Linked DNA regions of Homo sapiens: all the other regions are linked to region 1. The links come from fine-mapping of genetic effects on gene expression. A gene starts in region 1. Each other region holds a variant in brackets. All regions are shown on one strand. Distances are from middle to middle. Region 1 holds the start of ADAR (adenosine deaminase RNA specific). Region 2 overlaps CHRNB2 (cholinergic receptor nicotinic beta 2 subunit). Region 3 overlaps ADAR (adenosine deaminase RNA specific). Region 4 overlaps KCNN3 (potassium calcium-activated channel subfamily N member 3). Region 5 overlaps KCNN3 (potassium calcium-activated channel subfamily N member 3).

What was found.
Region 2: its variant is fine-mapped to the expression of ADAR in whole blood (TOPMed, PIP above 0.99).
Region 3: its variant is fine-mapped to the expression of ADAR in whole blood (TOPMed, PIP above 0.99).
Region 4: its variant is fine-mapped to the expression of ADAR in pancreas (GTEx, PIP above 0.99).
Region 5: its variant is fine-mapped to the expression of ADAR in whole blood (TOPMed, PIP 0.98).

The regions. Positions count from the first base shown.
Region 1 is chr1:154,606,060-154,611,230 of GRCh38, reverse strand. It overlaps ADAR (adenosine deaminase RNA specific), which reads left to right and starts at 3,045. Exons shown (of 15, transcript NM_001111.5): 1 at 3,045-3,239. The coding sequence starts at 3,225. RefSeq lists enhancers at 946-1,025, 1,109-2,102, 2,772-3,161 and a silencer at 3,162-3,271.
Region 2 is chr1:154,574,157-154,579,156 of GRCh38, reverse strand. CHRNB2 (cholinergic receptor nicotinic beta 2 subunit) reads right to left here. Exons shown (of 6, transcript NM_000748.3): 6 at 1-3,395. The coding sequence ends at 3,225. Among named protein-coding and RNA genes, the nearest start is that of CHRNB2, 8.9 kb to the right of the region's middle. RefSeq lists a silencer at 4,090-4,384. The variant A/G (reference allele first, on the strand shown) is at 2,912.
Region 3 is chr1:154,580,434-154,585,604 of GRCh38, reverse strand. ADAR (adenosine deaminase RNA specific) reads left to right here. Exons shown (of 15, transcript NM_001111.5): 14 at 261-388; 15 at 562-3,548. The coding sequence ends at 799. Among named protein-coding and RNA genes, the nearest start is that of CHRNB2, 15 kb to the right of the region's middle. The variant T/A (reference allele first, on the strand shown) is at 2,348.
Region 4 is chr1:154,781,047-154,786,046 of GRCh38, reverse strand. All of the region lies in intron 2 of KCNN3 (potassium calcium-activated channel subfamily N member 3), which reads left to right. Among named protein-coding and RNA genes, the nearest start is that of KCNN3, 87 kb to the left of the region's middle. The variant A/G (reference allele first, on the strand shown) is at 2,150.
Region 5 is chr1:154,719,015-154,724,185 of GRCh38, reverse strand. All of the region lies in intron 5 of KCNN3 (potassium calcium-activated channel subfamily N member 3), which reads left to right. Among named protein-coding and RNA genes, the nearest start is that of ADAR, 110 kb to the right of the region's middle. The variant T/C (reference allele first, on the strand shown) is at 3,149.

The sequences.
Region 1 (5,171 bases):
CGCACAGTAGTTGTGATTAAAGCTTTTCTGGATCATTTCTGAAGAAGGGTAAAGGCTTTCAGATTGTCTTGCCTGAAGACAAGAAAGCAGAGGTAAGATATAACTCCTGTTACTTAAACGGAGGAAAAAAAACATGGGGAAGTGGACTGGAATTGCAACAGCAAGAGTTTGTTGTGGTTCTTGTTTGTTTTTACCTTTTAAATTTGTGAAATACAGCATATATATACAGAAACATGAATAAAACGTAAATGTATAATGAAATTATTGGAAAGCAAACATATGTAGCCACTACCCAAGTCAAGAGCTAGAACATCACCGGTACCCAAAAGATTTCTTCCCAGTCAAAACTCCCACCTTTCTCCCTAGAAGTGATTAACCACAATTTTGTCTTTTTTTTTTTTTTTTTCTTTTTTTTTTTTTTTGAGACGGTGTCTTGCTCTGTCTCCAGGCTGGAGTGCAATGGCACAATCTTGGCTCACTGCAACCTCCGACTCCCTGCTTCAAGCGTTTCTACCACGTCAGCCTCCCCAGTAGCTGGGACTACAGGCACACGCCACCATGCCCAGCTAATTTTTTGTACTTTTAGTAGAGATGGGGTTTCACTATGTTGGCCAGGATGGTCTCGATCCCCTGACCTCGTGATCCGCCCACCTCGGCCTCCCAAAGTGCTGGGATTACAGGCATGAGCCACTGCGCCCGGCCTCATTTTGTCTTTTATGCAGAGCATACTATAGTTTGGTTTTGCCTGGCTTGGGACTTTCTGTAAGTGGGATCATATAGTATACATATGGCTTTTCCCACTCAGTATCATATTTAGATAATTAGCTACCTTGTTGCATGCGTAGATCTTTCATTTTTGTTGCTGTATTGTATTCCATCATGGGCATATGCCACCATTTATCCATTTTACTTTTGATGGACATTTGGGTTGTTTCCAGTTTGGGGGCTATTAATTACAAATAATGCAACCATGAACTTCTTGGGGTTTACCATTACCTTTCTAGATAATGGTAAACTGGTTTCCTGTAGTGACTAAGAGCTGCTCTGCATCCTTGCTGCCACCTGGTCTAATCAGATGGCTAATGCTGTCTGTCTGGTGAATGGACAGTAGCTCACTGTAGCTATACTGTGCATTTCTCTGATGTGATGGGGTTGAGAACCTTTTCATATGTTTGATATTTTTTATCTCCTGTGAAGTTGTCTTTCGATTGTTTTTGCCCATTGTTATACCTACTGAGGGGTCTGTTATTCTTTCAACTAACCAGCCCTCTGAAGGCGAATATAAGGATACAAAACATGCTTCCTGCCCCCGAGGAGATGACTTGACAATTCTAGAGGCAGATATATGAACAAGAAGTACATGATAATTGTGATTACTGAGGCATCCATCTTCCCTAGCAGACTAGCTAAAGGATGGCGCTCTTATTTGTGTCATATCCTGGGTGCTTAACACAGTATCTGCCACATAATTAGGTGCTTAGTAAAGTTTTGTTAAATGATCGAATGGGGCGTTTTTAGCGCAGTGTGCAAGTGCCCTATTAGGGGTAGGCGCCCAGTAACTCGAGAAGCATGGAGTAGGAAACCACAAACAGCACCTGCTCCCCCTCCTCTCCCCCTACCTGCTGTGGGGAAGGCCTCCCTTGTAAATTTGAAAGGTTGATTCACGGGAAGCCGTGGAGGAGGTGCATGCTAGGCCAACGAATAGAATGTGCAAAGGCCCAGAAGGAAGACAGAGCCCAGCCTGCAAGGGAATGTTAATTTGGAGTGACTAACACCATGAAAGGGCATCAGCTGGAGATACTGCTATAAAGGGACTGCCTTGTAATTTCATAAGCATGGGGGTAAAATTAAGATTAAACACAGGGAAAGAACATTCTCACAGGTGAGGATGGTGTTGAACCCTAGAATAATCGTTTCCCAGATACCTTGAACAAAAATCCAGCAGTTAGAGAAGCCTGACCATGAAGCAAATTTGACTTTTGTCCCTCTAGATAACAAAAGTTATCTTTTTGAAAGTAATGGTGTAATTTGAATGAGTGTAGAGAAGCGCTGAAGACTGAGCTTTACTAAAGCCTTCAGACCTGGATTTGGCAGCAGCGTGGCCTTAGTCAAGCCTCGGTTTCTACACCTGCAAAGTGGGAATAATGCCTACCTTGGAGGGCTGTTGTGAAGATTAAGGGAGATAATACATGTAAAGTACTTAACCATTTGCCTGGTGGGGTAGTTTTTATGACCTAGATCCTAAATTGTTCACTGCTGCTGTTGCTACTCTTGGTACTTTTTACTGGCTGGCATCTGCTTGCTTAAGTTTATAACATAGTAGGAGCATTAACAAGGTCCCACGGTGGGGACCTTGGTCGTTTGACGAGATCTGCGCTCCCGCCCATCCCCTCCCCCCCCCCTCCACATTGGAGACGCGGCCACCACCGCGCTGGCGCGGAGAGAGGGAGGACCGGGCGTCATGCTGTTTCTGGCCTGAGGTTTTGTGTGCCTTTGTTTTCCTTTTGCTCTATTCGTGTATTCCTGCCTACGGCCTGTGCGGGGAATTAGGAGCTCAGTACTGAAACGGCGGTTTTCCTAAACAGTACCGGACGGGCGCGGGGGCTGACGCCTGTAATCCCAACACTTTGGGAGGCCGAGGTGGGCGGATCTCTTGAAGCCGGGAGTTCGAGACCACCCTGGCTAACGTGGTGAAACCCTGTTCTTACTAAAAATACAAAAAAAAAAAAAAAAAAAAAGCCAGGAGTGATGGCGCTCGCCTGTAATCCCAGCTACTCCGTAGGCTGAGGCAGGAGAATCGCTTGAACCCGGGGGGCAGAGGTTGCAGTGAGCCGAGATTGCGCCATTGCACTCCAGCCTGGGCAAAAAGAGCGAGACTCCGCCTCAAAAAAAAAAAAAAAAGTACCTTCCGTAGTTCTCATGCAGCGGAGGGGTTCGACTTGTAACCGGCCTGAAACCAAGCGTGGCGCAAGATTTGCTCAAGCCCCTCCTCTTGGCCAAACTTTCCGGAGGGGAAGGCTTTCCGAGGAAACGAAAGCGAAATTGAACCGGAGCCATCTTGGGCCCGGCGCGCAGACCCGCGGAGTTTCCCGTGCCGACGCCCCGGGGCCACTTCCAGTGCGGAGTAGCGGAGGCGTGGGGGCCTCGAGGGGCTGGCGCGGCCCAGCGGTCGGGCCAGGGTCGTGCCGCCGGCGGGTCGGGCCGGGCAATGCCTCGCGGGCGCAATGAATCCGCGGCAGGTAAGCCGGGCCGGCCTTGGACCTTCGCCGCCGTCTGGGTTCGTTTACAACCTCACAGGCTTTGTGTTGCAGTGCGTAGCGTGTGCGTCTTGTGAGTGTTAGAGTGTGTGTGTGTGTGTCGTCTTGCCAAGCAGCATTGCTGGTTTAGGAATTTGTGCGTCTTGTGAGTGTGTGTGTGTGGGTGTGTGTCGTCTTGCCAAGCAGCATTGCTGGTTTAGGAATTTGTGCGTCTTGTGAGAGTGTGTGTGTGTGTGTGTGCGTGTGTGTGTAGTCTTGCCAAGCAGCATTGCTGGTTTAGGAATTTGTGAATTTGTATCCTGCTCATTAATTCTGCAGAATGGAGCAGTGCGTGAAGAGGGCTTGGGGGAAAATGCGCCCCCGTCTGAGTAGGAAGGCCTGAGCCCATGTCAAGGCAGACACATCGTCTCCCTTTCTGCTAGGGCCCCTTGTGGAACCCCCTACCCCCGCTTTAGCCCCACTTGAACAACGTTCGGACTTTGAGCAGCGCACACTATCCTCAGCTCACCTTATCCACCTCCTGAAGGCCTTCTGGGAGTTAAAAATGGCACTTAAGCTGTAGGAGAAAGCTTGTTAACCACTTTATAGCTAAAAACTGGGAAAACACAAATGGCCTTCAGCAGGTTAACAGATAAACTGAAATACATCCACATAATGGGATACTGCTTAGTAGTGAAGAGGAAATACTGTTACAAGTAACAACACGGGTGACTCGCAAGTGCGTTATGCTAAGCACGAGAAGCCAGACTCAAAAGGCTGCATACTGTATGAGTCCATTTATATGACATTCTGGAAAAAAAAAACCACAGTTATAGGGATGGAAAGTGGATCCGTGGGTGCCAGGGACTGGGTATCGTGGAAGAAATTGATTGTTGAGTGGCATGAAAAAGCTTTTTAGGGAAATAGAAATGTTCTATATCTTGATTGTGGTGGCGATTGTCGAAATTCATAGATTTATACACTTAAAAGGATAAATTTTACTGTATCTAAATTATATACCTCAATTTTGTTAAGATATATATATATTTTTTTTTTTTTAAGCACTCCTTTGAAAGGATTAAGGACGCCTAACTTGAAGGAAAAGCATTTCTGCACAGGTGTCAGTGTATTGCACTGTGGAACCTGTGTGGTAAAGGCAAAGGGGGTAGTGCTTATCTCTTGATCCTAAATATGTGAGACCAGATTAAAGTGAAATCTGGGAGGCAATGAATGTTAAATGAGTTGTTATGTAATTTGCATAGAGGTGATGCTGAGAGATTTAGAAAGGATCACTGTGGGTTGCTTGCTCACTTTCTTGCTCTCCTATTCCGTAGCTTTCCAAATGGCTGTACTCAACGGTGGCTTGGTGTTTAGGGGATTTAAGGGGGGCAAAAAGAAAGATTAATAATCTCCTCCTCTCCCTCTAACCCTACTGCCCTAAGATATCCTTAGCAAACTTACATCTCCTTTCTTTTCTCTGTGTTCATTCCATTGTGCGCACACATACACATTCATGGATTTTCTCTTTTTGTTTAGGGAAAAAAATTATAATGTACATACTATTCTACAACTTTTTGTTGTTTTATTGAACATTATATGATTCCTAAATTATCCCCAGGTGAATACAAATAGATATGACACATTTTAAAAAAATAAAATAACTGGCCGGGCGTGGTAGCTCATGCCTGTAATCCCAGCACTTTGGGAGGCCGAGGAGGGCGGATCAGGAGATCGACACCATCCTGGCCAGCATGGTGAAACCCCATCTCTACTAAAAATACAAAAATTAGCTGGGTGTGGTGGCGTGCGCCTGTAATCCCAGCTACTCCGGAGGCTGAGGCAGGAGAATCACTTGAACCCGGGAGGCGGAGATTGCAGTGAGCTGAGATCACACTGCACTCCAGCCTGATTGCAGTGAGCCGAGATCATGCCACT
Region 2 (5,000 bases), 32 kb after region 1:
TCTTGCCCTTCCTCTGCCGTAGCCTTCCTCAGTAGAACACACCACCTGGGGGCTGCTGTGTCTTGTTTGCTTTTAAATTTTCAATAACTTGGTACCAGCTGTTCTAGTATTTCTATCTCCCCGCCAGGAAGCTGCCTTCCTCCCACTGCAACGCCACCTGTCAAAAGCAGAGAGCCTGTGCATGCCTTCTTTTCAGACAAAAATAGTTCTCAGATCACCTGTGGCCTTGCCATCTCTGATGGAGATAGTCTCAACCTGTTTCCTCACTTCCCCTCCCAAACCCTTGCTCCAGGTTTCCATCCAGTATCTCTGCCACCTCCAGATCTGGAGCTTCCTCCAGTCCTTGCCCAGCATTAAGCTGGGCACCCGATTCTCTGCAGAGATAGCCCCACCACGGGAAGGAGGCATAGGGGCTTCCCTGACATCAAGAGAAGAGGACGACACACGACCCAAGGGTGGAAGAGACTGTGGTTCCCCAAAGCTTCCCAGTGCACTTGAGGGTTCACACTCTCCCACCACATGGTAGCACCTTGCCTGGGCAGTGGATCCTTCACCTCTGCCCTCACCTCTTCCTTATTGTGATGGTTCCCAAAGGGCTGCGTACAGAGATGGAGGGAATGACACTGCCCAGGTAACCCTTTCATATACACTGACCCCTTTCTTCCTTGCTGAAGACCTCGGCTAGCTCTGTCATCTTCATTTTGTAGATGCAGCACAGCCGGGTCTTAAAAGAGGTCAAACAGCAGACAAGCTCTAGGCCTGTTTACTCGTGTGTTAACCGGGTCATGGAGAGGAGCTGGACAAGCTGCTCTCTGCCATCCCCTCTAGCACCATTTGGTGACTTAACTTGGACAACAGCCATGTATGGGAAATATTAAAAGCAAGTACAGCCACAGCAGCAGCTGCTGGGGCCTCGGGGTAGCCCAGGCCCTGGGAGAGCCAAGAGGGAGGGCCTCAGGCCGGCATCCTACCCTTCAGAGGGAGGCTCCTTTCCTGTTGCTGTTTCTGGTTCCAAGACGCCTTCCCCAGGACCATGAGTTCAAGGAGGGTTCAGGCATAATACAGGCAACTCCCAATCCGCTCTAGAAGAGGGAAAGTTTCCATAGTGCAGAGACACTCCCTGCTACCAAGAAAAGGTGTCCGTGAGCCCATCCTGACAGACGAGATGCGCTGAGGCCTGTCTCCTGCAGCCACTGGCTTCCTGTCCCAGTGATAGGCTTCCACAGCCAGTACAGGACTAGAGCCTGGGGTCCCTGAGCACACACCTGTGTCAGGAGGTGCTGACCCAGAAGGGAGGCAGGGCCAGGGCAAGGGTTCAGCCCAGGAATGGAATGAAACTGCTGAGGGGGCTGCAGAGAGAAGCCTGCCCACCCGCTAGACTCCCTCTGGTGTTCCTGTAATGTTCCTCCCAGCTCCCCCAGCTCTTCCTGATAAGGGAGACTTGGTTTCCTCAGGGAAGAGGGGGGAAGAGTGGGCCTGGGAGGGAGGCTGGCATGACAGTCAGGGGACCCCATTCTCACCAGCTCCAGTTGCCTGTCAGACTCAACATTCATGAAGCATCTACTCTGTGCCAGGTACAGCGCTAGACTTTTTCACAAGCACTGCCTTATCCTCCCAGCAACCTCAGGAAGAGGGCATTGCCACCTACGTTTTATAGGCAAGGAAGCTGAGCTCTAGCAAGATGAAGGGACTTGCTCAAGCTGGCTCACATGAGTTACTAGCAGGGCCAGGACTTGAATCCAGACTCGGGGGTCCCTGTCCCATGCTCTGTGCCTGTGCTGTGTCTCCTCCCTCTGCCCTGCCTAGAGAAGCAGGAGTCCCAGCTGGGCTCTAGGGACAAAATGGCTTGTGTCAGGTCAGGTCCCTCAGGTGCACTTGGCAGGCTGACCCGTCTGTAACCCACCATCTGCTGGCCTCTGGAAGCAGAGTCAGGGTACAGCTTCCAGGGACACATGGGGCAGGAAGCCGAGGCTATGCTTTCTGAGGTGTCGCTGGCAGCAGCAGCCCTGTCCTTCCCAAGTTCTGCTTCAAAGCTGCTCAGGTTTGGTTGGGAAGGGGAAGAGGAAGAGTGACAGCCAGAAGGATGGAGCCATGAGCAGAACAGACTGGAGCAGCACGGATGTAGCAGGGTTCCAGCTGTTCACCTCAGCTCTGCTGTGGACAAAGAGGCTGGGTTGGCTTAAAGCTAACATCCTCAGTTCACTTCCTTAGAGTAACCAGTCAGTTCAAAGTGGGGAAAAAACAGGGCACTCGACAGATGGATCTCAGGGCAGGGAGGAAGAGTCAGACCCACCTGTGCTTGTCTCACCGTGTGGGTCAGTTTCTTCATCTGCAACATGGCTTATGTTGGAATCCATGGCTGTACAAAGTTCTTCCAGTTCCAAAAGCCCATGAACTTGGACTTCTCACAGATTTCAAGTATTTGGACCTGAGACTCCAAGCAGGTCACCCAAAGATTCAGAACTCAGAAGCTCCCCTAATACTCAGCCTTGCCCCCCACACCTTGAGCCTGAGAAAGGAAGGAAGAAGAGGGAAGTCCAGAGGGTGCAGAATTCTTCAGTGGGGAAAGAGGATCTGGAGCAGGTCTCTGGATCCCTTAGAAGCAAGGGGCTGTGGGACTGAGCTGGAAGCCTCCCCCAGGGGTCTGTGACCATGGGGCCCGGCTAAACCCTACTTGGCAGGAATCGCTGACCACTGTGGGGCCCACCCAGTCCAGCTGCTGTCCACTCAAGCAGCGGCAGGTGTCAGGTCACACCCAGGCCTCTCTCTTCCCCTCCCTTCAGAGCTACCATTGTGTCAGGCCAGCCCGGTGCGGTGTGAGCTCCTGCCCTTCCACCCCTTGTCCTATACCCCTCTTCTCCCATGACTTGGAGGCAGCAGACAATCCTGTCCCCTTCCTGGCCCCTTGCCC[A/G]TCACTCCTCAGGGTGGATGGCTCTGCCATCTCTGTCTTCCACTTAGCAGCCTTGCTCCCCTCCTCAACACTATTGCCTGGGCTGGTACAAGAGATGGAGAGCAGCCAAAACAAAGCAGTTGGTCCAGCCTCCAGGTTGGAGCTGCTGTGTGTGGATGGAGGCGTGGGGGAGGAGGGACTCCAGATGAAGCAAAAGGATGGATCTGTGGGGGCAGCGCCCCTCTTCCTGGTAGCTCACTCGTCCATCCTCCACCCAACACTACTGTGCAGCAGAGGGTGGCAGGGTGAAAGAGCATGGAGATGAGGAAGGGCCTCACTTGGAGCTGGGGGCTGAGTGGTCTGAGTGGAGGAAGGTGGTGGTGGTGTAGTTCTGGAAGAGAGGCTGCAGGAACATGCCGATGGTGCCAAAGACACAGACAAAGACAAAGATCCAGAGGAAGAGGCGGTCGATCACCATGGCGACGTACTTCCAGTCCTCACTCACCTGGATGGAGGAGACGGAGGAGGCCCAGGTCACATGATGCAGGATGGGAGACAAACGAGTATAAGCGGGTCCCACCACACAGACACACACCCCACTCCTCTCCTGCAGTGATCCCAGAATGATCTTGTTAAAGCATGGCTCTGATCTTAGTAAAAGCCTCCAGTGGCCCCACTGCCTTCAGGGCCCATCCAAACTCCCCAGTCTGGAATCAAGACCACCCACGACAAATATGAGCCTATCTCCTCCTCCTCCCACCCCATAACATAGCCCTACCAAACCCTAGTGTGTCCTCCCAGATCTCTGTGTCTTTGGGTTTCCTTTGTGTCTGGAAATCCTGAGCTCCCTTTCTCTACCTGGTGCACTCCTACATATCTTTCAAAGCCCAAATCAAACATCACCTTCTCTGAAGGCTGCCTTGATCCCCAGATCAGCATGAACTGCTGTCTGCTCTGGGTTCCCTCTGCACTGTGTACACGTCTCCATCACAGTATATTTACTGTACTGTATTGTTTCAATTTGCATGCCTGTCCCCCTACTAAGCTACAAGTTCCTAAACAAGGACCCTGATTCATCTTTGTCATCTCAACATCTGGAACACAAGAGTGTTAAGTAAATGGCTGATGCTTTAGTGAGTTAAGTGGCTGCCTCAGCCGGCCTGGCTCCTTTTATGATCACACACTGAGCCCCATCCAACCACACTACGTCCCCAGAGGGTGAGACCAGGTCCCAGATGTGAACAAATCGGTCAAAAAGATAATGCTGTCTGTGGGTTTGAGAGCCAGTCACAAGGCTTGCACAAACGGCCAGCATCTCCTCAGAGCTGCTCTACTCCAGCCTGAGTCTGGGCCTTTGTGCACGTGTTTATCTGGAGCCAGGCCAGCTCAGGGGGTGGGGAGACAGCCACTGAGCATCTTTATTTAGTCAGCAGCTGAAGAACTCACTCGCTTGGCAACTGTGCCTGTTATATACCTGGCACCATGCTACACACTGGGGATGCAAATGAGCAACAGAAACGCAGCCAGTGGTTTACAGTCTACTGAGGGAGGTGGAGCAAAAATAAGCACAAATTTAAAAATTCCACACTGGCAAACAAAGGATTGAGATAAAAGGAGGAGATATCATTTAGAATGTGGTCTGGGAATGCCTTTTTGAGGAGGTGAGATTTAAGCTGAGGTCTGATGAGTGAGAGAGAACCAGCTGCATGAGGAAAAAGTTAAAGAAACAATCAGACAAACCCACACGGAGGGACATTCAGCCGGCCTGGTCCCTTTAAAAACGTTTATGCCATGAAAGACAAAGCTGAGGAACTGTTCCAGATTGAAGGAAACTAGAGACATGACAACTAAATGTAATTTGAGACCCTGGATTAGGATGAGGGTGGGGGGTGATGCTACAAAGGACATCACTGGGACAATCGGGAAAATTTAAATGTTGAATTTATATGAGATACAGATATCAATGCTAAATTTCCAGCAGTCGATCACTGAACCTGGGTTATGCAAGAGAGTGTCCCTGTTCTTAGGAGAGACACACTGAATTATTTGGGATAAAGGGTCACAGTGTCTACAATTTACTCTCAAATAGTAGAGTGAAAGTTAATAATTG
Region 3 (5,171 bases), 26 kb after region 1:
ACATTGGTTGGTCTCCCAAGAACTTAAACTTTCTTCCTTTTGGATGCCAAGGGCTTTTCTTCTCTTAGTCTGGAATTAATCTGAATCGAGGTGGAGTTAGTATGTCTAGAGGGTGCTCAGTCTTAGCCAAACAGAACCCTAAATACAGGGGAAAGATCATGACCCCACACTTCCTCTCTCCTATGAGTCTTGAGTCCCTGCTTCAGAATCTTATTCCTGAAAGGTTTCCATCTTTCTCCCGTTGCTTCTGGGATTCCTAGGTTGGCAGAGTCAGCATATATGATTCCAAAAGGCAATCCGGGAAGACTAAGGAGACAAGCGTCAACTGGTGTCTGGCTGATGGCTATGACCTGGAGATCCTGGACGGTACCAGAGGCACTGTGGATGGGTAAGGAGACAGGAGAGCGCAGTGAGGACCAAGCCTCTGCCCTGACTTGCAAGGGTGCATCATACCTCTGCAGTCTCAGGGCTTGAGAGCCGCCTCCCCTCCCACGGTGTCTCCACTGTGAGCTCCTTATCTTACAGGTCCCAGGTGAATAATGAGTGCTTTTGTTTCTCTAGGCCACGGAATGAATTGTCCCGGGTCTCCAAAAAGAACATTTTTCTTCTATTTAAGAAGCTCTGCTCCTTCCGTTACCGCAGGGATCTACTGAGACTCTCCTATGGTGAGGCCAAGAAAGCTGCCCGTGACTACGAGACGGCCAAGAACTACTTCAAAAAAGGCCTGAAGGATATGGGCTATGGGAACTGGATTAGCAAACCCCAGGAGGAAAAGAACTTTTATCTCTGCCCAGTATAGTATGCTCCAGTGACAGATGGATTAGGGTGTGTCATACTAGGGTGTGAGAGAGGTAGGTCGTAGCATTCCTCATCACATGGTCAGGGGATTTTTTTTTCTCCTTTTTTTTTCTTTTTAAGCCATAATTGGTGATACTGAAAACTTTGGGTTCCCATTTATCCTGCTTTCTTTGGGATTGCTAGGCAAGGTCTGGCCAGGCCCCCCTTTTTTCCCCCAAGTGAAGAGGCAGAAACCTAAGAAGTTATCTTTTCTTTCTACCCAAAGCATACATAGTCACTGAGCACCTGCGGTCCATTTCCTCTTAAAAGTTTTGTTTTGATTTGTTTCCATTTCCTTTCCCTTTGTGTTTGCTACACTGACCTCTTGCGGTCTTGATTAGGTTTCAGTCAACTCTGGATCATGTCAGGGACTGATAATTTCATTTGTGGATTACGCAGACCCCTCTACTTCCCCTCTTTCCCTTCTGAGATTCTTTCCTTGTGATCTGAATGTCTCCTTTTCCCCCTCAGAGGGCAAAGAGGTGAACATAAAGGATTTGGTGAAACATTTGTAAGGGTAGGAGTTGAAAACTGCAGTTCCCAGTGCCACGGAAGTGTGATTGGAGCCTGCAGATAATGCCCAGCCATCCTCCCATCCTGCACTTTAGCCAGCTGCAGGGCGGGCAAGGCAAGGAAAGCTGCTTCCCTGGAAGTGTATCACTTTCTCCGGCAGCTGGGAAGTCTAGAACCAGCCAGACTGGGTTAAGGGAGCTGCTCAAGCAATAGCAGAGGTTTCACCCGGCAGGATGACACAGACCACTTCCCAGGGAGCACGGGCATGCCTTGGAATATTGCCAAGCTTCCAGCTGCCTCTTCTCCTAAAGCATTCCTAGGAATATTTTCCCCGCCAATGCTGGGCGTACACCCTAGCCAACGGGACAAATCCTAGAGGGTATAAAATCATCTCTGCTCAGATAATCATGACTTAGCAAGAATAAGGGCAAAAAATCCTGTTGGCTTAACGTCACTGTTCCACCCGGTGTAATATCTCTCATGACAGTGACACCAAGGGAAGTTGACTAAGTCACATGTAAATTAGGAGTGTTTTAAAGAATGCCATAGATGTTGATTCTTAACTGCTACAGATAACCTGTAATTGAGCAGATTTAAAATTCAGGCATACTTTTCCATTTATCCAAGTGCTTTCATTTTTCCAGATGGCTTCAGAAGTAGGCTCGTGGGCAGGGCGCAGACCTGATCTTTATAGGGTTGACATAGAAAGCAGTAGTTGTGGGTGAAAGGGCAGGTTGTCTTCAAACTCTGTGAGGTAGAATCCTTTGTCTATACCTCCATGAACATTGACTCGTGTGTTCAGAGCCTTTGGCCTCTCTGTGGAGTCTGGCTCTCTGGCTCCTGTGCATTCTTTGAATAGTCACTCGTAAAAACTGTCAGTGCTTGAAACTGTTTCCTTTACTCATGTTGAAGGGACTTTGTTGGCTTTTAGAGTGTTGGTCATGACTCCAAGAGCAGAGCAGGGAAGAGCCCAAGCATAGACTTGGTGCCGTGGTGA[T/A]GGCTGCAGTCCAGTTTTGTGATGCTGCTTTTACGTGTCCCTCGATAACAGTCAGCTAGACACACTCAGGAGGACTACTGAGGCTCTGCGACCTTCAGGAGCTGAGCCTGCCTCTCTCCTTTAGATGACAGACCTTCATCTGGGAACGTGCTGAGCCAGCACCCTCAGATGATTTCCCTCCAAACTGCTGACTAGGTCATCCTCTGTCTGGTAGAGACATTCACATCTTTGCTTTTATTCTATGCTCTCTGTACTTTTGACCAAAAATTGACCAAAGTAAGAAAATGCAAGTTCTAAAAATAGACTAAGGATGCCTTTGCAGAACACCAAAGCATCCCAAGGAACTGGTAGGGAAGTGGCGCCTGTCTCCTGGAGTGGAAGAGGCCTGCTCCCTGGCTCTGGGTCTGCTGGGGGCACAGTAAATCAGTCTTGGCACCCACATCCAGGGCAGAGAGGTCTGTGGTTCTCAGCATCAGAAGGCAGCGCAGCCCCTCTCCTCTTCAGGCTACAGGGTTGTCACCTGCTGAGTCCTCAGGTTGTTTGGCCTCTCTGGTCCATCTTGGGCATTAGGTTCTCCAGCAGAGCTCTGGCCAGCTGCCTCTTCTTTAACTGGGAACACAGGCTCTCACAAGATCAGAACCCCCACTCACCCCCAAGATCTTATCTAGCAAGCCTGTAGTATTCAGTTTCTGTTGTAGGAAGAGAGCGAGGCATCCCTGAATTCCACGCATCTGCTGGAAACGAGCCGTGTCAGATCGCACATCCCTGCGCCCCCATGCCCCTCTGAGTCACACAGGACAGAGGAGGCAGAGCTTCTGCCCACTGTTATCTTCACTTTCTTTGTCCAGTCTTTTGTTTTTAATAAGCAGTGACCCTCCCTACTCTTCTTTTTAATGATTTTTGTAGTTGATTTGTCTGAACTGTGGCTACTGTGCATTCCTTGAATAATCACTTGTAAAAATTGTCAGTGCTTGAAGCTGTTTCCTTTACTCACATTGAAGGGACTTCGTTGGTTTTTTGGAGTCTTGGTTGTGACTCCAAGAGCAGAGTGAGGAAGACCCCCAAGCATAGACTCGGGTACTGTGATGATGGCTGCAGTCCAGTTTTATGATTCTGCTTTTATGTGTCCCTTGATAACAGTGACTTAACAATATACATTCCTCATAAATAAAAAAAAAACAAGAATCTGAATTCTTAGAAAGTTTTAAGTCCTGGTTTCTTGGGGGAGGTGAAAATGGGAACAAAGGGACCTGTGGCCCTGGGGTTTCTGATAACAGCACCAGTGGCATCTGACATGAACCTGTGGGGGACAGGGCTGTCCCTCAGCCTTTGGAAAGGAGCCATTTCAAAGAACCTCCCTTTGTGGGTAAATTTGCGTCTGGGTGGGGTGGGGTTCATCAGGCACCTTTTGATTACGTACCCAGCAGGGCCCTTCCCCAGCAGAGCCCACGATTGATTGATTGATTGATTGATTGATTGATTGATTTAGAGATGGAGTATCACTCTGTCTCTCAAGCTGGAGTGCAGTGGCGCGATCTCGGCTCACTGCAAGCTCCGCCTCCCGGGTTCACGCCATTCTCCTGCCTCAGCCTCCCGAGTAGCTGGGACTACAGGCGCCTGTCACCACGCCTGGCTAATTTTTTTGTATTTTTAGTAGAGATGGGGTTTCACCGTGTTAGCCAGGATGGTCTCAATCTCCTGACCTCGTGAGGTCCACCTCAGCCTCCCAAAGTGCTGGGATTACAGGCGTGAGCCACTGCTCCCAGCCAGAGCCCACTATTAAATATCTTGTCCCACGGGACTTGAGACGCAAGATTTCAAGGCCCAGAGTAGGAAAACATCCCTTGAGAGAGGATCACCTATTAGGTACATAATTCCAGCTCTCCTTCAGGGGTGTTTTCTACCTCCTCCAAACCCCACTACTACCAGCTGTTTGACTTCCAGGAATGTGCATATTTGGAGTAAAGTTGCAGCCAGGACCAGGACAGGCTTGGTTGTAGTTTTAGGAGACAGACCATTTTCTTTTTACATCATAGATGACATCCAAATTATCTCTCCATCTTGAATTTCAGAGAGAATGTACCTTTTTTCACATTGTAATTTACATCAGAATTTCTAGAAGACTCATCCTGGACCCTTTAATAATATCATAACCAGAGGATCTAAAGTACCTAACAGTGAGGCTAAGTTCCAATTAAACCTGCCTCATCCATTACACAGAAGGAACAACTGAGGCTAGAAGGGCCAGTGACATGTTGTTTGTGGGCATATTTCTTGAGGACCAGAACACCACAACGCCACAGGTGTCATTCATTGCCTACTGAGCTACATTGCTGGGTAAGCTGAAGTTGGTTTTTTGTTTTGTTTTGTTTGAGACGAAGTTTCGCTTTTGTTGCCCAAGGTGGAGGGCAATGGCACGATCTTGGCTCACTGCAACCTCTGCCTCCCGGGTTCAAGCGATTCTGCCTCAGCCTCCCGAGTAGCTGGGATTACAGGCATGCACCGCCACCATGGCCAGCTAATGTTTTGTATACCATGTTGGCCAGCCCAGTCTCAAACTCCTGACCTCAGGTGATCCACCTGCCTCAGCCTCCCAAAGTGGTGGGATTACAGGCGTGAGCCACTGCACCTGGCCAACACTTTTAAGTGGAAAGACAGTGAAGGCTGTTGTCTCTGCCTGCTGTGATGTACCAGGAACCTTGAGTGCCTCTGTCCTCTCTGTTCTCAGACAGCTCCGGTTCCACATGGACAGAAATGTAGTGCCAGGTCTTTTGAAAAGTGGACAGTTTCCTCAGCCTGAGGCAAGTGCCCAGCCACTTTGTGT
Region 4 (5,000 bases), 170 kb before region 1:
AATGGAAACTTAATAGATGAGAGTGTGGCCTCTTGGTTTAAATCCTGTCTCCACCACTTAGTTGCTATGAGGTCTGGGGGATGTTCACTTTTCTTATGGGGCTATTGTGAGACTCAAAGAGTTGATGTAAAGAAAAGTGCTTAGGAGGCCAGGTGTGGTGGCTCATGCCTGTAATCCCAGCACTTTGGAAGGCCGAGGATGGCTGATCATATGAGGCTAGGAGTTTGAGACCAGCCTGGCCAACATCGCAAAACCCCACCTCTACTAAAAATACAAAAATTAGCCGGGTGTGGTGGTGCACAGCTACTCGTGGTAGCTGGGTACTAATCCCAGCTACTCGGGAGGCTGAGGCAGGATAATTGCTTGAACCCAGGAGGCAGAGGTTGTAGTGAGCCATAATCGTGCCACTGTACTCTAGCCTGGAAGACAGAGTGAGACTCTTGTCTCAAAAAAAAAAAAAAAAAAAAAAAAAAAGAAAAAGAAAAGTGCTTAGGCCCCAGCCAACAAGTTGGACTCACCAAATGGCTTGTTGCTGTTTGAAGTGCTGCCCCCGCCACTGGGAGATCAGGAAAAGCTCCCCCTGAAGGGGTGACAGTGCAGCTGGCCCTTGGGAAGGAGGTGAAGGGCCTTTTAGTCAGTTGGGGAAAAAACAAACACTCCCTGCCCACCACCACCACCTGGTCCTGACCTCAGTTCTTCAGCTCCCTAGGCTGTTCAAAGATCCAAAAACCTATTTATTTTTAGTTGCTAAAAATATCCCCTAAGCCAGGGTTAAAGAATTTCTCCCTTAGTGGTAAACAGGTGACTTAGAACCAATCAGGGCCCAGCAGCCCCAGTGATGATGCTGTTCCTCCCCTACCCCCAAACATTCAGCAGGATCCTTTCATGTGTCAAAAGGAAAGAAACTTATCAGAAACTTCCTGTTGAGAAAACGATACCTCTTACCCCAGACTTAGCAGATGCACAGAAACCTTTGACTCCTGGATCTGCCAAGGCACACAAAGAACCAGAAACACCTATTGGCCTGGCCTGGGATAGGCAAACACTGGGGCTCAGCCCAACAAGCCTTCCTAGCACAGCCTGGGGGCAGCACACACAGTAGTCAAGAGAGCTGCCTGCCCTGGCTGTAGAGCCTAGGTCTGCCCCTTATTAACTGTATGACCTGTAGTAAATTATTTAGCCTCTCCGAGCCTCAGTTTCCCTGTCTGTAAAATAGAAATAAGAATACCTGTCTCAAAATCCTGTTAAGGACTAAATGAGATGGTGCCTGTAAGGCACACAGCACAGGACCTGGTGCACAGTGAGGCTGCAATACATGGCCCCTGCTGTTACCATTGTTAATGGAGACCGCCGCCCTGCTCCCTCCGCCCCCTGAAACGGGGGCTAGCACTCCCCAACTGTCTGGCCATCCTTCTCCAGCTGCCATTTGGGGATTGGCTCTGTGACAAGCAGGGGGCACAGGGCCTGGGGAATACTGGAGGAAGGCACCCAGCCCCACCTGGGAGTCAGAAGGGACCAGCTTAGGCCTGTGGAAGGGTGGGACGCTGGATCTGGAGGTCTCTGGTGAAGAAGCTGAGAAGAGGGAGTGCTTGTACAGAAGATGGAAGGGCGCAAGCTTAGGGGTTACTGGTAACTTGGTTTAGCTGGGATGAGACACCGGGTGTGGCAGGTGATGGGGATAGAGGGGCCAGCTGGTGCCAGGTGGGAAAAGGCCCTTTTGGCCAAGTGCAGCTAGGAGGGTGGACACTCTGGGTTGCCACGGAAAGGTTCTAGAAGGGGAGGTGACATGATTTGGTTTGTATTTTAGAACATTTGCTCTGGCAGCAATGTAAAGATGGCTGGGGTGGAGCACATGATGAGACCAAGGTGTGGCCACAGCAACCCAAGGATTGGCCGGGGTCACTTGGCCTTACTGCTTCAAATATAATTGGTTACAAACTCCCACCCCACACAGGAGGGGACCCGGTGTCTTTCCACTGGTCTCTGGGGGCTTGGAAACTTCCATTTCTCTCTTGACAGCTCATCTGATGCCAAACTCTTTCTGCTGAATTCTCCACCTCCATCCTGTACTTAGTAACCGCTTTAGGCACCCTTCCTGTTCCTGTTGCTCCTCGAGGGACCCATGACCAAGGCCTCTAGGTTAGCTGAC[A/G]TTTCCATGGATCTGGAGCAAGGGGAAGGGGTGAGGTGGTGGTGGCACAACAGATAAGACAGCGCTGAACGCCACATGCTCCTGATCTTACAGTCTCAGCACTGTCCCTGTCTCATGGGTGGTCAAGTCCTCAGTGGGCTCCGGCCTCCCCCTCTCATGGGACTGGCCCAAGGTGCTGCTTAGCCAGCTCCCCTCTCCTTCCAGTCCCACAGCTCACAATCCCCCATCTCCAGTGTTCCTGTTCATTTCTAGGGCACATATATTAAGCCCTGTGTTGGTCTCCTCTGACCCCACCCCAAGCCTGTCCAGAGGAATCTTCTTCATTAGCAAACATGCTGGGGTGCATAAGTGGGCTCCTAAACTAAGATGGTCTCTTCCTCGCTAGGGACCCCATCACCAGGTCTCCATAGAGGCCTGTTCACTGGCGGGAAGAGGAGGAAGGGAAAGATGATAAATGGATATTGTATCTGTGGAAATGAAAGCCGTGGTCTTAGTTCCACAAACATAGCCCAGTCTAGATTACAGATAACGATGTGGGTTTCCCAGGTGGTGTGGACACCAGGGATAGAACCCAGTTTATTTTAATCATATATTGATTCTCTGGTCAGCAAAGATTCTTCTGAGAATGAGCATTTAAAGGGTGGGCTTGAGTTTTCTTTCTTTTCTTTTTTCTTTTTTTTTTTTTGAGATGGAGTCTCGTTCTGTCACCCAGGCTGGAGTACAGTGGTGCGATCTCGACTCACTGCAAGCTCTGCCTCCCGGGTTCAGGCCATTCTCCTGCCTCAGCCTCCCGAGTAGCTGGGACTACAGGCGCCCACCACCACGCCCGGCTAGTTTTTTTGTATTTTTAGTAGAGATGGGGTTTCACCGTGTTAGCCAGGATGTTCTCAATCTCCTGACCTCATGATCCGCCCGCCTCGGCCTGCCAAAGCGCTGGGATTACAGGCGTGAGCCTCCGCGCCCAGCCGAGTTTTCTTTAGAAGACAAAGTAAAGCCCAAACTGGCCAGCCCCCAAATAGAGTGCCTGCTTAGCAGGCTGGCAGGTGAAAGGGCGTGGGACTTGGAAGACACAGAATGCTGCAAGCCCCAGGCAATTGATTGAACCTGTCTTGGTTTGGGTTTCTTCATCTGCTAAATGGATGTATGACTCCCTTACAGGGACATTATGAGATGGCAATGAAATGGTATGTGCAGAATCACCTGGCTCGGCCCACAGTCTGGCTTTTGGGTAATTTTGACACAAAAGGGAATAGCTATGAACTGAATTGTGTCTCCCCAAAACGCATTTGTTGAGGCCCTAACCTCCAATGTAACTGCCTTGGAGAAAGGGTCTGTGGGAGGTAATTAAGTTTAAATAAGGTCATAAGGATGAGGTCTAGTCCTATAGGACTGCAGCTCTAGGAGAAGAGAAAAAGAGAGATCCCTCTCCCTTTCTCTGCCATGTGAGGACACAGTGAGATGGCAGCCACCTGCAAGCCGGGAAGAGAGCCTGACCGTGTTGGCACCCTGATCTCAGACTTCCAGCCTCCAGAACTGTGAAAAAATACATTTCTGTTTTTTGAGTTACCCAGTCTATGATATTTTGTTTCGGAGGCCCGAGCTGTGGTGCATATTTAACCTGTGGGCAGTGTGTTTTCAGAAAGTGGTGACATGGTGCACATGGCCCTGGTGGGAGTGGGTCTGTGGTCTCCTGTCCTTTGAGGAAGCTCCTTCTGTGACATCCAAGGTCCCAATGATCTGGGTCCTGCTACCTTCTTGGTCTCACCTGGTATCATCCCTCACTTCTTTCTCACATTGGTCTTCTTTCTTTTATCTCTCCAACTCTCTAAGCTCCATCCTGCCTTGGGGTTTTTGCACATGCTGTCCCCTCTGTAATGCATACCTTTGCAAGGCTCACTTTGGATTCAGAGGTCCCTTCCATAGAGAGCCCTCCCTGTCCTGGCTGTCTGGGACTTCTCTCATTTCCTTTGCCCTGTCTTATTCTCTTCCTGGCAGGCATCACTCTCTAAAATTAAATGGTTTACCTGTTTAATATCTGTTTTCCTCCCCTGAAATGTAAGCTCTGTGGGGACAGGGGCCTTGTCTACTTGTCTTGCTATATCCCTAGAGCTTACCAAGGACTGTCACATAATGGGGGCTCAACTCATGCTCAATGAATGAATGAGTGAATAAGCTGATCGGGGCAAAGCTCCCTGCCTGTGCATCGAGCACCTCTTGAACCAGACCCCAAACACTTGATTTCCAGCATCACACCTTGTCTCTCCTTACAACTAGAGACCAGCTGGTCCATCCAAAGGATTTCCAGTCAAAGGGTTCTATGGAGAGCATGGGGTCCACTACAGAGACCTAGGCTGGAGGAGGAGGTGAGTGAGTTGATCTTTGAATGTTCTTCTCTACCCTTTCAACTACAACAGCTCTGAATTTGTCTGTTTCCCATGTTGGGCGTACATGAAAAATCTTATGAAAGAAATGGCCCCACAGCCCAGAGAAAATGGAAAACCACAAATTGCATCCAAGTCTTCACATTACACTGAGGAATCTGAGGTCCAGAGACTTGCCACACACAGATGGCCAGAGGTGGGATGCTCTATCCCTAGTGGTGACGTGCTCAGGGATCAAGAAATTCCTGCTACGTGAGTAAAAAATAGTGGCTCGCTCAAATGCCGAAACTTGGCTTTCTTTCTCTGAGAACTGAGGACAGGGGAAAGGATTTATGATCACCACTGGTCTCTGTTAGTCCCAAACAAACTTCAGACTCCATAACCCCCATGAGTGGTCATTACACACTGCAAGAGACCAAAAGTGAGCTCTGGCGAAGCGCTCAGGAGAAGCCTATCCTGGCCGGACCAAA
Region 5 (5,171 bases), 110 kb before region 1:
GCAGAATTATTTATGGTGTTTGATTGTTTGGTCTTTGATTACATTTATTGGATTCTGTAAAGAGCCTTAACAGACATTAAAAGGAACTGGTACGGGCAAATATTCTTATGTTGTTGACATTCAAGTGTTTGTACTTGATACATCATGGCCCTGAGCTATCAGCTGCACCAAAAAAAGCCATGATTTGTCACATCACGATGGCAGTGATTGAAGGCTGTTATCACAGTAAGGCCTGCCGGGAACCCTGCCACTTGGCCACTCTCTTTCAGCCCCCTCTAATAATGGGTGCAAAAGTCATGCTCAGTATTGAGGAAATTATTCAAGTTATTGAAACACCTAAATGCAAATCCACTTGCATCTATTTTCCTGAAGCAATTTACTGAGGTTTCACTGGATTGAAACTACGTGCCGGAGTGAGGGCAGGGAGATGTTTTGCCTCCAAAGCCTTCTCATAAGCTGTTTACCAAGAGTAGAGACATTAGCAGTCTCTCTGTTTATTCTGGTTTTCTTTTTTAAGCCAAGAATATTCTTTGTATTTGGTGTTATTCCTTTGTCCTCTCCATTTTTCACCAAGTAGATCAGACGCTAGAGGAAAATAAAGCTGAGGAAAGCCAGCTCCTTTGTATGCCAGGAAAATAAACAATTTTTCTGCAATATAATTGTAGAAGATGAGACTGTGGTTGCTAATTTTAATCTTTCAAAAATGATTCCCTAACATCCTCCTCAATTCCACTTCTTGAAAAGTAGGACTGAAAATCAAATCAACAAATATTTATTGCTCACCCATGAATCTAAGGTAGCTTTTTAATCGAATAACATCTCACTTTTCTGAGAACACTTAAATCTGTTGAAATGTCTCTTTAATATCTAATATCTTTTCTCAAGGAAATAAACAACACAGAAGGGATGGTTCTTACAGAGAGAAGGTTTTCAAAGCTGGCAGGACTAGAACTTCTGAAGGTTCTTTTACATAACCTTAATTGAAATGAAACTGGATGTGTGCATCCTTGGCCTGCTCTGGTTTGAGCTGACTTTGACCTGCTCACAAGAGAACCCCACCTCTCTTCCCCTGGGGATGCCTGGCCTGCCTTCTGTCCTCTTGAAATGGTCCATTGTATCAAGCTGGAGTGGCTCATTGGTCAAGAAGATGCTAAGCAGCCGGGTGCGGTGGCTCACGCCTGTAATCCCATCACTTTGGGAGGCCGAGGTGGGTGGATCATGAGGTCAGGAGTTCGAGACTAGCCTGACCAACATGGTGAAACCCTGACTCTACTAAAAATACAAAAATTAGTGGGGCGTGGTGGCACACACCTGTAATCCCAGCTACTCAGGAGGCTGAGGCAGGAGAATCGCTTGAATCTGGGAGGCAGAGTTTACAGTGAGCCGAGATCCCACCACTGCACTCCAGCCTGGGCAACAGAGCAAGACTCTGTCAAAAAAAAGAAAAAAAAAAAAAGAAATACTCACTCTCAGACATGATCCTTAGAAGCTCTTGGCCGGGCGCGGTGGCTCATGCCTGTAATGCCAGCACTCTGGGAGGCCGAGGCAGATGGCTCAGGAGGTCAGGAGATTGAGACCTTCCTGGCTAACACAGTGAAACGCTGTCTCTACTAAAAAAAAATCCAAAAAAATTAGCCGGGCGTAGTGGCACGTGCCTGTAGCCCCAGGTACTCGGGAGACTGAGGCAGGAGAATCGCTTCAACCTGGGAGGCGAAAGTTGCAGTGAGCCGAGATCGTGCCACTGCACTCCAGCCTGGGCAACTGAGCGAGACTCCATCTCAAAAAAAAAAAAAAAAAAAATGCTAAGCTCAGTCTATTCATAACATCTCAGTGAATTCTCAGAGAAAGATCCAACATGAAGGAGTTGACTGTGGCATAATTGCAACCTCTTCGGAGTGGGCAATTAGTAGATTTGACAGATAAAAGCAGTCTCTTACCGGTATATGCAACCTTGATGCTTCAAAGACCTACGCAAAACGAAAAAAGGAATTGTAGCTATTAATCATAGAAAATACTCAAATTGTTCTAGTATTTATTCATCCTGTCTTGCTCTAAAGACTGCAGCCTAGCCTTTGCCATGAGAGCCAGCACTATTTTTATTTATTTGTTTGTAGGGAGGGAAGAGGGTCTGATAGCACTGGGTAAGAACTCAATTTCTGCTTTTCTTGAGTCCCATGCTTATCTTCTTTCCTCGTATGACTTATCAACTCTGGTGGCAACGTCATTTCTGTATTTAATTCAATCAGATCTTCCCACACTGACTTCGCAGTGTCACTGCCATTGTTATTCTGTAATTATAACTTATTGCTAATCTCTGGGCTACTAGATAATATTTAAGTACATGATTCACAGAGGGACTGGAAGAAAGATACTAGAGCCCCATCTTTTCTGCCACTTAGTGTTTTCATGTCCCCATCTTTCTGTTTTATGTAGCTAAACAGATCCATCACAGAGGCCACTCCCTGGGTGCCACACTCTGTACTCTGGGGGCACCAAGATGGGTAAGAGGTGGTCCTCACCTCCATCCCTAACCTCTGGTGGCTGACTGCCCTCAGAGAGCACTTCTTCTTATAAGAGGTAGAGTGGGCCGGGTGCGGTGGCTCACGCCTGTAATCCCAGCACTTTGCGAGGCCGACGTGGGCGGATCACTTGAGGTCAGGAGTTCAAGACTAGCCTGGCGAACATGGTGAAACCCCGTCTCTACTAAAAATACAAAAAATTAGCCGGGCATGGTGGTGGGTGCCTGTAATCCCAGCTTCTCGGGAGGCTGAGGCAGGAGAATTGCTTGAACCCAGGAGGCGGAGGTTACAGTGAGCTGAGATCGTGCCACTGCACTCCAGCCTGGGTGACAGAGTGAGACTCCATCTCAAAAAAAAAAAAAAAAGGAAAGAAAAAGAAAAAAAAGGCAGAGTGGGCTGCTATGGACACACTTGGCTTGGGAGGCACCATGGACCGGAGATATTTTCTTTGCGGTACCTACTCTCCACATCAAGCCACAGTGAGCAGAACCTTCAGACAGCACAGTGTGCTAAGGATCCTATCTCCTTCTTGCTGCAGGGGTTTCTTGCCCCAAGTAGCTCACCCAAGTACACTTCCCCATGAATTCAATGAATAAGACCAAAATTAAACCCACAACTTCCCTAAACTA[T/C]TTCCTTCTCCTAACTTCCCTGGTGTGCTCCTGACATCGTGTTCTTCCAGACGCCAGGCCTAAAGACTTAGCCCCATTTCTGACTCCTCTGGACCCTGGACCCCACGAGGGTCTGAGCACTTTCTGTGTCTGATTTCACCTTGCCGTGGCTGTTCACGCATGCCCGCCTCTCCAGGGCCTCGGCCCCGCCACTCTTGAAGCCGCCATCTTCTGTCTCGCACTATCACAGCAGCCTGCTACCTGCTCTCCTCACTTCGGCGTCCCTTACCCCAGTCATCCTGCACTCTGCTTCCCCATGGATCTCCTTAGACTCTCAGGCTTAGCTCTGAACAAATTACTTCCTGCTCAAAAACCTTTAAGTAGTTTCCCCACCTACTATCTCCTGAATGACACTGAAGAAAACTTTTCTTTAATTACAAGCATATGCCAAAGTTTGATCATAATCTTGCTAGAAGAAAATTTTCTTCAGCAGGCTAATTCAAAGATTACTCTTAGTAGTGGTATTTCGTAGGAAAAACAATGGTAGTCATTGTTATGCCAGATTATAGAAGGTTTAGCTAAAGACTGCTAATGGACAGCTGGTTGGGCTCAACAGTGGATTTCCAGAACAAGTCTTCAAGTCTTTACAATGGATCAGATAATCAATAGGGCAGTTATCAGGAATGCTAATTCTCCCCAGAAGAGGATTATAAATTACATCACGCACAAGGTTCTGTCCCAGACAGATTGGGTGCAGGTTTTCTTTAGCAATAGTCACAGAAACAATGTGCGTTTAAGCTGGAAGGACCCTTAGGGAAGAGCCACTCCAACCCACATGAGAAGACGAAGGCCCAGAAAGGGGCGAGGGTGGGCCCCCGGCCTATGCAAGATCCACTTTGCTCTCAGACCATCAGGCAGGCAGCTTTAGGGCGGTCAGTTCCTTGGAACTCAGCATGGGGTTAGGGTCCCAGACCTGCTGAAAAGAAAAGCCAGCTTAACTCCACCCTAACTGAGTATCACATAAATAGCATTATAGAATTATCCACCACCCATTACCATATTGCTACAGGGAGAACCTCAAGCTCCAACTCTGAACAACGGAAATACACCTCCTCTCTCTCTACCCAATTTCCTGCCAGCCAGAGAGGTGGAGCTCCCAGTTCTAAGTGGTCAGTGAGGGCCTCTGGGTGAGGCAGGCAGAGAAGCCTGTAAAGGGAGTGTGGAATAGAACAGGGGGAGGAAAAAGAGGAGGTGCAAGCAGGGTGATGAAAGAGAGGGCAGCCGGGGAAGCCAGAGCAAGTCTGCAGGGTGGTGATGAGGGGAGAGTGGGCTTGGCAAATGGGAAAGAGGAACCAGCCCCCTTCTCTAGTCCTGTGTGTAATGGACACCTTCAGTCAAGGGCTGGCTTGCAGGTTCTCCGATAGTGATCTGATCATCACTCAGCCTAATTTCAACCTGTGTAACTCCTTGAAGTTACAGTCATGCACTGCATAACAAGTTTCAGTCAATGATGGTGCACATATACCAAGGTGGTCTCAGAAGGCTATAACAGAGCTGAAAAATTCCTCTCCCCTAGTGATTTGTGTTACAGTGGCCTACAGTACAGGAATGTGCCATACAGGCTTGTAGCCTAGGAGCGATAGGCTATACCATACAGCCTAGGTGTGTAGTAGGCTGTCCCATCTAGGTTTGTTTAAGTACACTCTGTGATGTTCACACACTGAAGAAATTGTCCAAGATGTGTGTATTTAAATCACACCCACCGGCCAGGCCTCCCTTTCCCCGTCTCCAACCTCCAAGTAGAATACTTCCCTGGCAAGGGTTCCTGGCAGCATAATGGGCATGCTAGTGATTTCTTCTCTGGGGGGCTCTGCTAATGGGACCCCTGGAATTTCCCAGGGCTCCTGGGGCTGCTGGAGGCTTAGGGTGCCCAAGAAAGGTGCTCCTTTCATCCCCCTTGTACTCCTGCCCCAAGCATTCTTGCCGCAACCGACAGCCCCTCTGTAATAGCAAGTAGCAGGTTACCTGGGCAGAGAGGTGGCCA